Regions from separate parts of the Homo sapiens genome. Here region 2 is linked to region 1. Evidence: fine-mapped expression QTL. Tissue or cell type: whole blood. Region 1 holds a variant in brackets; the other region holds the start of a gene. All regions are shown on one strand. Distances are between the middles of the regions.

Region 1 (8,103 bases):
CTAGAATTTAAAAACTGGCTCAATCCAATAGAAAGAGAAAATAAAAAGAAAAAAAGGACCAAAGAAAGTATGAATGCAACTCATGAAAAGCAGAGACAAATTTTTTAAGAAAAAAAAGCATGAAAACTAGAAAGCACAAAGATGGTGGAAATAAAACCAACTATAAATCATGATTTGTAGTAAATGCAAGATTAAGCTCACTAGATAAGACAAGGCCTCTCAGATTAGATTATATCCAGCTACACATATTTTAAAAAAATAATGGCACCAAAAGGCAAATAAAGGAGGGCGGCATATTAAAAAGTATACCTGGTAGTTAATACCAGAACAAACAGACTTTAAGGTGAAATGCACTATTAGCGATTAATGTCACTATCTGACATCTAAAGAAACAATTCACTGGAAAGTTATATTGCCACTATAAACTGTAATTCATCTAACCATATAATTTCAAAATAATTAAGGCAAACGTTGACAGAACTTGAAGAAAATGACAAAGTCATAATCGTAAGAGATGTCAACAAAGATTTAAGAAATTAAACAGACAAAATTAATATGAATACAGAAGATTTTATAAAAATTAACAACTTTGATCTAATGAATATATATAACCTTGTACCTAACATTTAAAAATACACTTTTTTCAAACATACATTAAACATTAATTTGTTTTAAATTATCAATTAGGAGACCACAAAGCAAATCTCAAAAAATACCAAGGAGTCAATAGCAGGTAGAGCATCTTCTGAGTATAATGCAATACAATTAAAAATTAATAGAAAAATAAACCAAAAATCTCCAGTACATTTGAAAATATTTTAATTTACTAAATAATTGTTTTTTAAAAATCATAATGGATAACAGAATGAAAGTTAAAACTGAGCAATACACAACATATCCAAATGTGCAACATACAACTAAAACAGATCTTAGTGAAAAATGGACAGTCTTAAATGCATATAGTAGAAAAGACTGAAAATTAATGCATTGAGTTGCTACCTTGAGAAGTTAGAAAATGAACAGAGTACATCCAAAGAATGTAAAATTATTAGAAAAGATGCCAGGTACAGTGGCTCATGCCTGTAATCCCAGCATTTTGGGAGGCCAAGGCAGGCAGATCATGAGGTTAGGAGTTCGGGACCAGCCTGGCCAACATAGTGAAACCCCGTCTCTGCTAAAAATACAAAAACTTAGCCAGGCATGGTGGTGGGTGCCTGTAATTCCAGCTACTCAGGAGGCTGAGGCAGGAGAAGTGCTTGAACCTGAGAGGCAGAGGTTGCAGTGAGCTGAGATCGCACCATTGCACTCCAGTCCGGGCAACAGTGCAAGACTCTGTCTCAAAAAAAAAAAAAAAGAGGAAAAAAAGAAGTCAGTGGAAAAAAAATAAATAACAAAATCAACTAAACTGGATAGATCAGGAAAAGAGATAAGGCACAAATGAATACCAATAATTTTAAAAGGGACATAACTTACAAATAAAGTAGAAATTTACAGAGTATGAAAACACTAGGAATAACATTTGACAATATATATAAAATTGAATAATCTAGATGAAATACACAATCTCACAGAAGTAAAAGTAACATCAAAAGATTTTCAAGAATAAATAAATGTAAATTAGATCCATAACCATAAAAGATCAGTAGTATAACTCTACCCATCACCACCTCCCAATCAATCAATCAATCAGCAAATACCAAAAAACACTAGGCCCAGATGGTTTTACAGGTGAGTGTCACCAAATATTCAAGGAAGAGATCATTTCAAACAAAGCTTTCCAGAGAACAGAAAAAAGAAAAGTGCCACTGAATTCATCATATAAGGAATGTAACACCTTGATACAAAGGACAGTATAAGGGAGAAAAATTGAAGCCTATATGACTTATAAATACTGATGCAAAGCTCCTCACAAACAGCAACAAAAGCAAACCAAATTCAGCAGTGTGAGTTGTTCTTTAAAAATGTAAATGAACAGACAAGTTACAAAGTGCAAGAAGAGGTATGCAACATACATACCTAACAAAATCAACAACCAAACAGAACGATGGGCAAATTACACAAGCAGAGAACTCACAGCGAAGAAAATCTGAAGACGCAATAGATGTGTGAAAAGATACTTCAATCTCACTGATAATTAGAGAACTGCAAATTAAAACAACATGGTCACATTTTATACTCATCAAAACTGGTGAAAATGTAAAAGTATAAATATAAGTGCTGACAAGGATGTCAGGAAAGAGGAACTCATAAACTGCTTACAGAACACCTTGTTACAATTCCTTTCAAGAGCAATTTGGTAACAGGTAGAGGTGAGGAAGTCCAGCCCAGCAATGCCACTTCTAGGTGGTCTGGGTGAGAGAGATGCTCCCATATTTTGTACAAGAGGAATATTTATTGCCGCATTGTTGGAAATAGTGGCAAAAGCAGAAGCAATTTCACTGTCCTTCAGTATGGGAATACATATTTACATAAAAGTTTAAGGCACGCGAAATAAAAGTACATGTTACAGATAAACATATATGTAATAAAAATATGATACATATTTGAAGAAAAGATTACCTCTGGGGAAGGAGAAAATAAATAAGAATGGTATTCTACCTGTATCTGTTATGCTTTATTACTTTTTTCAAAAAGGGGAGATATGAAACAAATATGGCAAAATATTAACATCTGTTTAATCTTGTGAGTACATGTGTGTCCTATTATTTTGATACATCTTATTTTGAAAAAAAGAATTTAAAATATAATAAAGTTAAGAAATACACCAATGCATTATTATTAAATTTGCATTAAAATTTTTTTTTACTCCCAAGGAAAAAAGCTTTTCTACCTGAATTGTTTTGTTTTACATCAGGGTCTTTGCATTCCTAGGCTCTGCCCAGGAAACCACATTTGGCATCCTTGATGGCCAACTATAGTACTGAGCTCTGAACTTCCAAGAACACCAAATGATTTTTTCCAATCTGGGCTAAGAAGCGCTTTTATTCAAACACAAAGCAATTTTGAGGGGAATCTGGAAGTACTAGCACTAGTTGTTCTTAATTACATACTAAGAAGCTTCTTACTAAATGACTTCTTTTTTGAAGTTAAAATTAAATAACCCTGGCTAAAAGTTAATAGCTATTCACCAGTATTCTTCAGTCAAGATATCTGAGAATAATAATAAGCATTACTGCCATTCCCAGCTCAGCCCCAATAAATCCACAGCCTGAAAGTACTAGAGCTCAACATTTTCTCTGGAACCTGAATGTCACTGAAAGAGCAACTGCCAGCTATTTCTGTCCTTTCTATCAAAACAAATAATAACAATGGCTAACACTTTTTAAGTACTTAAATTACAAGCTAGGAACTGTCTGAAGACCTTGATAACTTTGTCCTCATGACAACCTTTAAGATGTGGGAATCTTATCACCCTATTTTCCAAATAAAGAAACTGAGGCACAGAGAAAGTCAAGAAGCAAAGATCTAAAATATCACTGACCAACCATACTAGATTTGGATAGGGAAAGAAAATTTCCACTATGCCATGGGTTGTAAAAAAAAGGCACACAAGTAATGTTAAAAATTATTGGCAATTGGCCATCAGAAACACAGTTAATAAAAAATGATATTCTACAAGCAGCTGCTTCCTCTGGTTGTGATGTCATCATAAATCCTTAAATAAAACAGAGAAAGTAGTATTCTACTGTAGCACAAGAGAAAAGCAATTGACTAAATATCTGACAGTGATAAAAGAACAAAAATGTGAAGACAGTATGGGGGTAGATGGCATTTTAAAGGTACACTGATTATTTGGCATGCTGGATGTTCACAAACACACAGTCAAGTATCAGCTATCCTGCTTTCAAGGGCTTACACCTCTAAGTATCTTCTTACTCATAATGAAATCAAAACAAAAGCACAACAACATATTTCACCAAATCAGCATACGTTATTAAAAATACAAAGCTGGGCACTTACAAACTGCTGAGGGCTCCAGTTCATGGAGATTAAAGGAAACCATACTAATAACGGCCTTATATGGTAAAGATGAGGAAACATCATTCTGAAAGACATTTTGCACTAGGATCTAATAAGAACACAATTCTCATTCGTCTGCACGACACATACTGATTTATCATGTAGTGAACAAACCAAAGAATCCATGTATAATTAGCTAGATTGTGAGGGGCCA[C/T]TCAGAAAGACATCCACCACATGTCATGGTGACAACACAGTTTACCTGAACCTCTAAGCAGCAAATTTAAATGAATGCAGAGGCTGAAAGGAAGATGTACAAGAATTAAAGCCAGCTTTTAGATATCTTTTTAAACTAAAAAATGAATTATTTAAGAAACTCCCACCAATCTTCTAAAGCTTAGAGATAGAAAAACTTCACTTTACTAACAGATCAGTCCACTATTTCACTAGGGATAAATCACCTCTGTTGCTTAATCTAGAATATTACTACTTTTCTGGCATGAAATTGAAGTAGTTTAGCTGAAAATGTAATAGCCATTAGACTCCTTGCTTTAAATAAATTTTGATTCATTGATTACTTACTAGTCCCAATCACATGCCATAGGATAGCTTTTGTTATACCTTTCTAGCTAAAACTCCAAATGATTGGGATTACTAGCATGTCAACCCAACAGGTGGCAAAAATGGCCAGCACCAAGTTTCCCAAAGGCTCTGCTCCAGAGCCAGTTCATAAACTCGTGGGACATTGGTGAAATAGGTCAGGACACTGGCCTACAGACATTATTATCTGAAAGATCCAGTACAGCCTGCCCAGAGCCAAGCAACATGAGCCGAAAGGAAAATTCAGCTTCCAAAGCATGTATACAGCTGGCACAAGGGAGAGGTGTAATGGCACAATTTCCACGTGGCTGGCCAGAGCTAAGGGTGATGTCTTATGAGCATGTTCCAGCCAGCAACCTTCACCGTGGCAGAAACCGTCCCAGATACAAGCACTATCATTTGCTTTGGGGAAAACACTTAAAAATCTTGAAGTAGCTACAACACAGCCGAGTTCCTGGAGACTGATACTTCAACTAAACCCACAGAGTTAGGCAACATTTCCTCCAATGGGCATTTTGCGGGGAGAAAGTGAATGAAAATCAAAATGTAAGCATCAGTAAAAATATAACTTTATCAAATTGCTATAAAAGGAAAGTTCAATAACTTAAATGACTTAGCAAAAAACATTCCTCTTTAGGCACACTAAATTCAACATAAATCTTAAGAAATCCGGCGAAACCCTGTCCCTACAAATATAAAAATTAGTCAGGTGTAGTGGTGCGCACCTGTAGTCCCAGCTACTTGGGAGGCTGAGGTGGGAGGATCACCTGAGCCCAGGAGGTCAAGGCTGCAGTGAACTATGATCGCGCCACTGCACTCCAGCCTGGGTGACAGAGTAAGACCCTGTTTCAAAAAAATAATAATAAGGCCAGGTGCAGTGGCTCACGCCTGTAATCTCAGCACTTTGGGAGGCTGAGGCGGGCGGATCACTTGAGGTCAGGAGTTCGAGACCAGCCTGGCCAACATGATGAAACTCCATCTTTACGAAAATTACAAAAATTAGCTGCGCTTGATGGTGTGTGCCTATAGTCCCAGCTACTCAGGAGGCTGAGGCACGAGAATCGCTTGAACCTGGGAGGCAGAGGTTTCAGTGAGCCAAGATCGCGCCAGTGTACTCCAGCCTGGGTGACAGCGAGACTCTGTCTCAATAATAATAATAACAATTTAATTAAAATTAAAAAAAGAAAAAAGAAGAAATGATATTGCTTAGCTGTAAGGGCACTTCCTATCAATCTTACTGGAAAATCACAACAGCTTCCACTTATTAACAATGTATCCCCTCTGACCCTTTTTTTTTTTTTGAGACGGAGTCTCACTCTGTCACCCAGGCTGGAGTGCAGTGGTGCAATCTCAGCTCACTGCATGCAACCTCCACCTCCCAGGTACAGGCGATTCTCCCGCCTCAGCCTCCTGAGTAGCTGGGATTACAGGCACACGCCACCACGTCCAGCTAATTTTTGTATTTTTTTTCACTATGTTGACCAGGCTGGTCTCAAACTCCTGACCTCAGGTGATCTGCCCACCTCAGCCTCCCAAAGTGCTGAGATTACAGGTGTGAGCCACCGTGCCCAGCCCAGTATATCTTATTTATCGATCTCACATCTCCTTCTAAAAAGGAATCCACATTTAAGAAGTAGACTCATCCTATATATTGAGGGCAGTACTGAGTACAATAAAAAAAACTGTTAATGTACACAAACATGTACAGAAAATTTCTGACAGACACGTCTCAATAAAGTTCTGTGCTGGGGTGTGTTTTTAAAGCAGCTAGTGGTGTATTACACATGTACCGCAGCCATGTTCACCTTCCCAAACTCTCGAAATTCAACATTGGGAATTTTGCTTCCAATATGTCCTACATATTACAAAAGATCATTCAGAATGACTGTTTCTTCATGTAAGAATGATTCCTCACATAATTATTTCTGACCCACATATTGGTTTGTGGTTGAAGACACTACCAATTGGTGTTAAAATGGATCAATCTAAGCTGGGCACGGTGGCTCACACCTGTAATCCCAGCACTTTGAGAGGCCGAGGCAGGTGGATCATCTGAGGTCAGGAGTTCAAGACCAGCCTGGCCAACACGGTGAAACTTCATCTCTACTAAAAATACAGGCCGGGCACGGTGGCTCACACTTGTAATCCCAGCACTTTGGGAAACCAAGGCAGGCAGATAGGTCAGGAGTTCGAGACCAGCCTGGCCAAAATGGTGAAATCTCGTCTCTACTAAAAATACAAAAATTAGCCCGTTGTGGTGGCACATGCCTGTAATCCCGGCTACTCGGGAGGGCTGAGGCAGGAGAATTGCTTGAGCCTGGGAGACGGAGGTTGCAGTGAGCTGAGAGCGTACCACTACACTCCAGCCTGGGCGACAGAATGAGACTCTGTCTCAGAAAAAAAAAAAAAAAAAATTAGCCGGGCATGGTGTTGGGCACCTGTAATCCCAGCTACTTGGGAGGCTGAGGTGGGAGAATCACTTGAACCCGGAAGGCGGAGGTTGCAGTGAGCTGAGATCGCACCACTGCACTCCAGCCTGGGCAACAGAGCGAGACTCCATCTCTGAAAAAACAAAAAAAGATGGATCAATCTGATAATCACTGGTTCCTGCAAGAAAGGAAATGTAACATTATGTTAAAGTCGCACAACGCTTTACCCAGCAGGCCTACTCTTTCTCATAACTAATGTATGTTTTCACAAAGTAATAAATTCCCATGGTGATAAAAAGTGACACATTCATTCGAGTGATAAGTCAAATCAAATATTCCCCTTTAAGAAGCTCAAGGTATCCCACACACAATTTCTTTCAAGTTTGCATTCTGGAGTGTATCATATAAACCCACACCTTCCTAGGGTGCTGGATTCAGACTGCTTTCTACACGGTTTCCCTTATCTAATCCAACTCAGGCAGCTGTCTCACTTCCAGTACTTTTCCATCTCCTGATCTGCAGTCCTCTATGCCTATTATCCAGACTGGTTACACCACCCGAAGATGTAAGGGCCTAAGAGCCCCCACCCCATCCTGGGGAAGGCAAACAAAGATACTTTACATGACCTGACTCAAAGAACAGTTAAAAGATTTCCACATTGTTCAAACCCCTACCTAATATTCATCTAAGTTTTCATTTTAGGAAAAAATGAGTATCAAAATCACTTTATGTGCCCAAATTTCAATCATAACTTATTTTTGGCTTTGGGTGATACATACTGAGAATTCTTCAACTCAGCAAGGAGAATGTTAAGTCACACATGTGCTCAGAAGTAGAGGAAAAGTTTTCAGCCCAAGCATAAGGGCTCCATTCACACTGTGCAGAGTTCAAAGGAGTCAAAAGCGTATCTATTGAAGTGGGTTTTCCATTTTTTTCAACTTCCTTTTTCTTATGACAGTATTATTTATGTGGATACATGTTTTGTTTGAATTTCTTAAGCCCCTGCTGCTCCACGGGGAGGAGCTAGAGTGATTGTGGTCATGGGACAAGGGGACAGCGGCATGGAAAACAGAGACTCAGCAGCAGACCAAAAAGACGGGTGCACACAATATATGAC
Region 2 (8,091 bases), 45 kb after region 1:
ATGAGGAAGTTTTCATGGAGGAAAAACCTCATGACCCATGTCCCAAAGGACAAGTGGGATTCTAGAAGTAGAAAGGCGATGAAGTAATAAATTCATCACAAGATTTGAAAGCTGGGATGTTTCAGGGAGTGGCACTAGAGATGAAGACATTGGAAGGGGAATAGTGAGAAATAAAGCAGGCTGAAATCAGAGCCCACCTTACTCCACACCTCATTAAGGAGTCTGAACTTTATTTTGTGGGTAAAGGTGAGGTCACCAGAGGATTTGAACAGGTGAATGGCATGTTCCCTGATGAATCCTTTTTCATCTATAGCATACCTTAAAATATATTAATTCAAACCTTTCCCCAGTCCTCTCACATTTGGGTTTCAACTTATATAACCAAAATATTGAGGAGGGTGTGGTTTAAGGTCTAATTTCTAACTAGTAAGACCCCACTATTCATAAATTGGAAATCATCAAAATTTAAAATCTTTGTTCCTAAAAAGGGGCACCATCAAGAAAATGAAAGGACATGTCAGAATCCAAGAAAATTTTTGCAAATCATACAGCTGATAAGGCACTTGAATCTAGAATACATGAACAACTTTTATAACACCAATAAAAAGACAACCCATTAAAAAACGGGCAGAGCATTTGAATGGACATTTCTCCAAAGATTACACATACAAATGTTCACCAACCACATGAAAAGATGCTCAACATCATTAGCCATTAGGGAAACACAGATGACTAGAATCAAAAAGTCAGAGAGTAACAAGTGTTGGCAAGAATGTGGAGAATTTAGAACCTTCATATACTCTTGGTGAATACCGTAAAATGGTGCAGCTGCTTTGGAGAAGTCTGGCCATTCCTCCAATAGTTAAATATAGAGTTACCATACAACCCATCGATTACATTCCTAGGTAAATACTCAGGAGAAATGAAAACGTATGTTCACAGCATTATTCATAATAGCCAAAAAGGAAAAACACCCAAATGTTCATCAACTGATGAATGGATAAACAAAATACGGCATATCCAAACAATGGAATATTATTTGACCATTAAAAAAAAAAAATGAAGTACTATACAATACTACCACACATATAAACCTTGAAAATATGCTAAATAAGGGCAAGACACAAAAGACCACATAGTGTATGATTCCATTTACATGAAACGGGAGGACTTCTAAGGGGTATGGGGTTTCTTTTTGGGGGGGATGAAAATGTTCTAAAATTGACTGTGGTGACAGCTGCACAACTCTGTGAATATACCAAAAACCACAGAACTGTACACTTTAAACGGGTGAACTGTACAGTATGTCTCAATGAAGCTGTTATAAAACAAAAAAAGTTCCATTCTGCACTCTAGAAATACAAAGTACTCAGAAAGGAGTACAGAATCTTGTTCACTCACTTTAAAGGATCTGAACTAGGGCAAAGAAAACCCAGAGAGATTCTATTACTTAACATTCTAGGTACTAGGTCATACTGAAATATTCATGAAGAATTCTGTTTTAATACAGAAAAGGTATCTTAAGTTTAAAAAGACATACAAGTGTCAGAAAAGAGTTTTCATAATTCAAGGAGACAGTAACACAGAGAAGTCATAAATGGAAAACAAGCTTAAGAGGTTTTATCACATGGATTTGTACCTTGAAAATGCAAGTAGCTCTCAAATTTATTATTGCCCCACCCCTGGAAAAGAGGTCAAAGGTAAAACAGACCAATTAATAATATGTTTCTAAAGTACCAGTTTGTGACAAATCAAAATATGAGAAATTAAAATTTTGCCATCATAAAGAAGAGACTCGTCGACATACCCACTTATATAACTAAGAATTGATATTCATCCTTTTGAACATTCCATCTCATAGTCGTTAGAGTGACTCTCTTCCTCATGGTTGGAGTGGATCCCAGAAGTGACAGATAAGTTAAACATAAAACTTTTATCAAAAAATCCAACGGTGTTTAAAAAAATGCTATTCACTGACACCGAATCTAATCCTAAACTATATATAAATAAGTATAAATGCTGATTAGCACAATCTGCAGGCAAAGTAACAAAGGATCATGAAAAAGTCAATATTGTGTGCAGTTATGTTTCATCGGTATGTATCTATTAAAATTCATCAGGCTTTAATGTACCTTCCACAAGTAATCAAAATAAATATGGACAAGATAGGTTCTATATTTGTCAAAAATGTGTGCTCCTGACGTTTATACCAAATCTTTGTCCAATCCTCAGTACACACGACTAACCTCCACCACGAAACACTGCACTTCAAGACCTAAGGTACAACACAATTCTCAGTTTTATTTCACTTTTTTCCCTACTTATTTATGCGATTTCTCAGATCCAATGTTTACTATTATGCTTCATAGCCAAACATTATGACTGTGAAACATACCTCCAAACCAAAAATACTAGTTTCCTTAAATCATCTGAAATGTATAGAACCAAGTCCAAAATAGATTTTGCACATTTCTTCAGTTTTACAGGGAATGCAGAAAGTGAATTAATATTAAACAGGTATCTATTTGCCTTCACAACTGAACAGACGGTACAAAGCAACTGCTTATACTTAATCATGTTTCTGTCTATTCCAGCAGGCCCTGGTGTCAGGAGAACGTTCTGCCAGATAAGGACAATGAGATGCATTATTATATAGAGTGACTAAGAGCCCTACAAGTACTGTTTTAGAATGTAATCCCAGGCAGAAAGGCTGCGGTAAGAGGGCCTAATATTTTGTGGTAACTATTTCCAAAAGTAAATATATTCGCCACCCAGGACCAGTTTATTAAACGCGCACTACATTCAATTCTTTTCAAATGTCTTATAGGAGGGAAAAGCCTTTGTATCTTACCATGCCGGGGGAAATGAACAACTTGCAATTTGCTTCGCACTCTGAATCCCACGTTTGCAACATGTAGAGCAAGCACTTTAGACACCACAAAACAAGGGCAGCCTACATTACGGCCAAATATAGGATGTGTTTCTAAATCGTGATGCAGTAAAGCCTACGATTCCTTTTCCAGCGTTCAAAATCCTTTGAACACTCCCAAAAAAGGATGCCAGGGCCAGCGCCTCCCTCCAAGAGGAAGCCCCTTTCTTCTCAGCTCTCACCGCAGCCTGCCACTTCCCCCAACACATTCAAATCATTTGAGAGACGGAGAGCTGGGGAGCGTGCGCCGGTGGGGACAGGCGGGAGAGCTCGGTTTCTGCATTCCCACCCTCCACGTCTGACCTCATCCTCAGTCATTTCGGCGCAGCGGGGCCCCACCTGCACCTCGCTCCTTTTTACTGCGTCCCTCGCCAGCTGCCCCGCTATTAGGGAAACACACCTCTGAATCACCCAGTTCACTCGGACACCCTGGGCCCCCGATCCGACAGCCTTCCTGCTTCGTTCCTCCCCTCCCAACCCCCAGCCAGTCCCAGCCCTCTGCTCCCTTGGCCGGGCTCAGCCTCTTCCCAAGCCGCCCCCACCCACATTACTCCAGCTCCAGCTCTGCCCCGCCCCGCCTGACCCCCAACCGAGATCTGCAGGGCCCAGAGCTGGTCTCGCACCCAAAGCCAGGAAACCCGCAGGCCAGGCGGCCGCCCTCGCCCCTCCCGACGCAGGGCCCAGCTCGCCCCGGCCCCACGTGAGCCCGGCCCCTACCCGCCCCCACCCACTCGTTCCCTGGGGCGGCCCAAACCCAGTCCCCAGGCCTGGAGCCCCCGGGCTCTACGCCTCGCCCGAAGCAGCCCTTCCCTCCCAGCACCTCGCCCAAGCAGGCGATCCCTGACCCCTAAAAGCCTTCCCTGGGCAGCCTCGTCCCACCTCGGCCCGCGGCTCCGCACCCGGCCAGGAGCGTTCCGGACCTCGAAAGCCTCCTCCCCACAGGGACCCTGCTTCACGCTCCCCACGCCACCTGGTTCGGTCCCCAACTCCCTTTCCCCGAGCCCCCGACAGCAGCCCCCGGCCCTAACCCCTTGCAACCCAGCCCGTGAACCCGCGCCCCGCGCGCCCACCCAGCACTGTCCCCTCCACCTAGCCCTGCCCCTCGCCCCGCCGGCTCCTGTCAGGCGGCGCAGGCACATGCTCAGAGGACAGGTCCGCCCGCCCGACTCGCTCTCAGGCTGCCCCCGCCGGGCGCGAGCCGCTCACCCGGGCCGAGGTGCCTGAGGCGCCGCCGCCGAAGTCCCCGCTGCAAAGCCGGGCGAAGCCTCCAACCGCTGCCGCCTCCAGCCTGGCACTGAGCGCCGTGCGGGGGAGGGGCGCGGGCAGCCGCCACCGCCCCCGCCACCGCGCGTAGGCCCCGCCCCCGCGCCGCGCGGGACCCAACCAGGGCTGCCGGGCCGCTGTGCGCCACGCCCACTTCCGGAGGGGAAGCCCGCTTCCCACCCCACGTTCCACGCCTCGCTACGCCCCCTCTGGTCGCACCGAGGGATGCAGGCGGTGCCCAAGCGCACGCCCCGCTCTCCAGTCATCTGAGTGGTAGAGGGCCACGCCCACAGGCGCCTCCGAGCAACGCCCACTGCTCCTTAGACCCCGGAGCGGGGTTCTTAGAGCCCCGCCCACTGACCCGCTAGGCTCTGCAAGGCCACGTCCCCTGGCTCCTCAAAGATTCCCCCAGAGCCCCTCAATACAGGAACATTAGCTCCTCTGAGCCCCGCGCACTGCCTATCCGAGTCCTTAAACCAGCCTCCTGCTTCCCTAAGCCCGGCTCCCCTCCCACTGCTTCAGAACTCGCCCAGCGGCCTCACAAAGCCCCGCCCCGTCTTCCAGAAGCCCCGCCCAAGGACCGCAACCCTATTCCTAGCATCTCAAGCCCCGCCCACTACCCCATCTCAACGTTTAAACCCCAAGCCCCGCCCCGAATTCGCGAATCCACGCCTCTGGCTCCCGAGGCTCCGCCCTGGCTCCGTCACACCCTACCACCACCTCCCTTGAGGACTGCCGACGTTCCAGCCCTCCCTGAACCGTCCATTGTCACATTCCTAGTGCAGAGTGGCCGCCCCTGGGCTGGGCCACACCCACGTAACCCCAAAGAGGGCCCGTGATTGACCCCATTTCGCAGGTGAGGGAATGGAAACTTCAGGGTTCCTCCCTTCCTTTCCCTGGCCAGAGTCCCTTAATAACTCGGCGGCCCAGGCCTGAAAGTCGGAGCACGGGAATTTGAGCCTCAGCTCTGCGGCCGTCAGACTGTGTGACCTGGGACAGTTCTCTTACCTCTTTGGGCCTGAGTCCCCTAATCTTCAGCATGAAGAAGTTGTCCTGTTAATAGCTAAAGTCCCTTTCTGAAACACCAAGCTCTGAAATACCGAGATTTGAGGAAACAGAGCCTGGGGAACCGAACCGACTGTGGGGTAGGGCTATTTACTTCCCAAAGCAAGGCATCTTTGCCATTCACAGGGGGATTTTTTATTTTAAGCGTCAGCCTCAGAAACGTGTGTTATTTAAATCAAGCTTGACCTGAACTAAGACAGCTATCACAGCAAATTATTTATCCTCTCTAAGGGTCAGTTTCTTTATCTGTAAAATGGGGATAACAGCCCCTCCCTCACAGGGTTCCATGAGATCATATTAGCAGCCATGATCGTGGCATTACTTTTTGCCATTAAAAGGAATGGCAAAAACCGCGATTACTTTTGCACCAGGATAATAGTAATATACTTAGAAGAGTTCCTGGCTTGTGATAAACGCTCGACAGTACCTGTTGCTGCTACTGCTGGGACTCAACAAAATGAAAGGATGGGTTTTATTTTGCCTTCAAGCAGCCACTCCTAATAGGAGGAATTCAGCACCCTTCCTGCAGTAAGATTTGCCACTCACTTTATTTAAATGAGATAAACGTGATGAAACGCCTACTGCAGTGCCTGCCATATGGTGAGGCTCAAAAACAATTCACTTGTTTTTGTTTGTTTGAGACACAGTCTTGCTCTGTCGCTCAGGCTGGAGTGCAGTGGGGCAGTCCACGGCTCACTGCAGCATGGACCTCCCGGGCTCAAGTAATCCTCCCACCTCAGCCTCCCACGTAGCTGAGACTACAGGCACGCGCCACCATGCCCAGCTAAATTCTTAACATTTTTCTGTAGAGATGAAGTCCTGCTATGTTGCCCAGGCTGGCCTCAAACTCCTGAGCTCAAGAGATCCTCCCACCTCGGCCTCCCAAAGTGTTGGGATTACAGGTATGAGCCACTGTGCCCACAATTCAATAGTTTTGAACAATAAAAGTTGTTTTTTTAAAATCCACTAGTTAATAAATTAAACAGGGGCATTGATAGCAGTGAGTTCTGAGTGCTTTGGGGAAAATGAAGATTGGTAAAGTGCTTTGAGTTCCTTTTTTTTTGAGACGGAGTCTTGCTCTGTCGCCCAGGCTGGAGTACAGTGGCGCGATCTCAGCTCACTGCAAGCTCCGCCTCCCAGGTTCACGCCATTCTCCTGCCTCAGCCTCCCGAGTAGCTGGGACTACAGGCACCCGCCACCACGCCCGGCTTATTTTTTGTATTTTTAGTAGAGACGGGGTTTCACCATGTTAGCCAGGATGGTCTCGATCTCCTGACCTTGTAATCCACCCGCCTCGGCCTCCCAAAGTGCTGGGATTACAGGCGTGAGCCACCGCGTCCGGCCGAGTTCCAACTGGAAACCACGGAGTAAGCTAGCTTATTCTTTGGAAACAGATTATTGCTAACATTTATCCATCACTTAGACATGCTAGGCACTATCTGAGTGCTTTACATGCAGAATCTTCTGAAATTGCTCAACAATCCTATGGCCACAGAAATAATTCTTTTTTTTTTTTCTTTTTGAGACGGGGTCTCACTCTTTTGCCCAGGCTGGAGAGCAGTGGCTCCATCTGGCTCACTGCAGCCTCGAACTACCAGGCTCAAGCAATCCTTCCACCTCAGCCTTCCAAGCAGCTAAAACTGCAGGTGCACACCACTTTGCTCACTAATATTTTTACTTTTTGTACAGATGGGGTCTTGTTTTGTTGCCCAGGCTAGTCTCAAATTCCTGGCCTCCCAAAGGTGTTGAAATTACAAGCATGAGCCACCACACCCAGCCCAGAAGGGACTCCTAATCCCCACCTATAAAGGTGAGGAAACTGAAGACTCAGAGAAGTTAAATTCCTTGTCCAAGTCACATGGCTTGAACCACGTAGAACCCACATCCATCTAAATGCAGAGCCTGCACCCTTAGCCAGTTAGTCATTACACTAAACTGCCTCTGTGGCAGCATGACAGAACAGAAAAACCGTGGACTTTGGATTCTGGCCGGTTTAGGTTTAAATTCAGGCTCCACCTATTACTCATTGTGTGACGTTCAGCAAGTCACTTCCCCTCTGAGCTGAGCCCTATTCTTCTGCCTATATATCACTGGGAATCATGTAAATGCTTCAGGAAGTGGTTTTGAATATTCAGGAGTTTAGATTCAATGAATTAGGACGTGGCAAAGCACCCAACACAGTGCCCAGCACAAAATAGTTGTTTTAAAACATGTTGATGTTTAAAAATCACAGGGTTCCGGCCAGGAGTGGTGGCTCACACCTGTAATCCCAGCACTTGGGAGGCTGAGGCAGGCGGATTGTTTGAGGTCAGGAGTTCGAGACCAGCCTGGGCAATATGATGAAACCCCGTCTCTACTAAAAATACAAAAATTAGCCAGGCATGGTGGCACGCGTCTGTAATCCCAGCTACTTGGGAGGCTGAGGCAGAAGAATTGCTTGAACTCGAGTTTGGAGGTGGAGGTTGCAGTAAGCCTAGATAGCGCCACTGCACTCCAGCCTGGGCGAGAGTGAGACTCTGAAAAAAAAAATAGAAATAAATAAAAATAAAAAAATCTTGGGGTTCCATGAGATCATAGATAAATGATGAAGTTAGAAGTGATGAAATGATAATGATGAAATTAGAAGAATTCCCCCCGCCAGATGATACCGCCAAAAAGCAGCCATGGAATATGCTACGAAAGATCCCAAGGCCTTCATCTTCTGACTGCCTCTTTCAGTTCCTGGTTTGAGCCCTGCATTTGAGGAGGTGATTCTTGCACAGGAAGCACCCAATGCCAGAAGCAATGCCACCTCACTTTCACTCCATGCCTATCCCAAATGTGGTCAGCTGAGA

The links. PIP is the estimated chance that this variant, and not a neighbour inherited with it, causes the effect.
Region 2: it holds the start of CORO1C, and the variant in region 1 is fine-mapped to the expression of CORO1C in whole blood (INTERVAL, PIP 0.99).

The regions. Positions count from the first base shown.
Region 1 is chr12:108,682,080-108,690,182 of GRCh38, forward strand. The region is part of intron 2 of CORO1C (coronin 1C); the gene reads right to left. Among named protein-coding and RNA genes, the nearest start is that of CORO1C, 45 kb to the right of the region's middle. The variant C/T (reference allele first, on the strand shown) is at 4,175.
Region 2 is chr12:108,727,294-108,735,384 of GRCh38, forward strand. CORO1C (coronin 1C) reads right to left here and starts at 4,225. Exons shown (of 11, transcript NM_014325.4): 1 at 4,136-4,225. It overlaps LOC105369969 (a long non-coding RNA gene), which reads left to right and starts at 6,116. Exons shown (of 3, transcript XR_945328.4): 1 at 6,116-6,159. RefSeq lists silencers at 3,504-3,783, 3,974-4,483 and enhancers at 4,096-4,899, 7,308-7,809.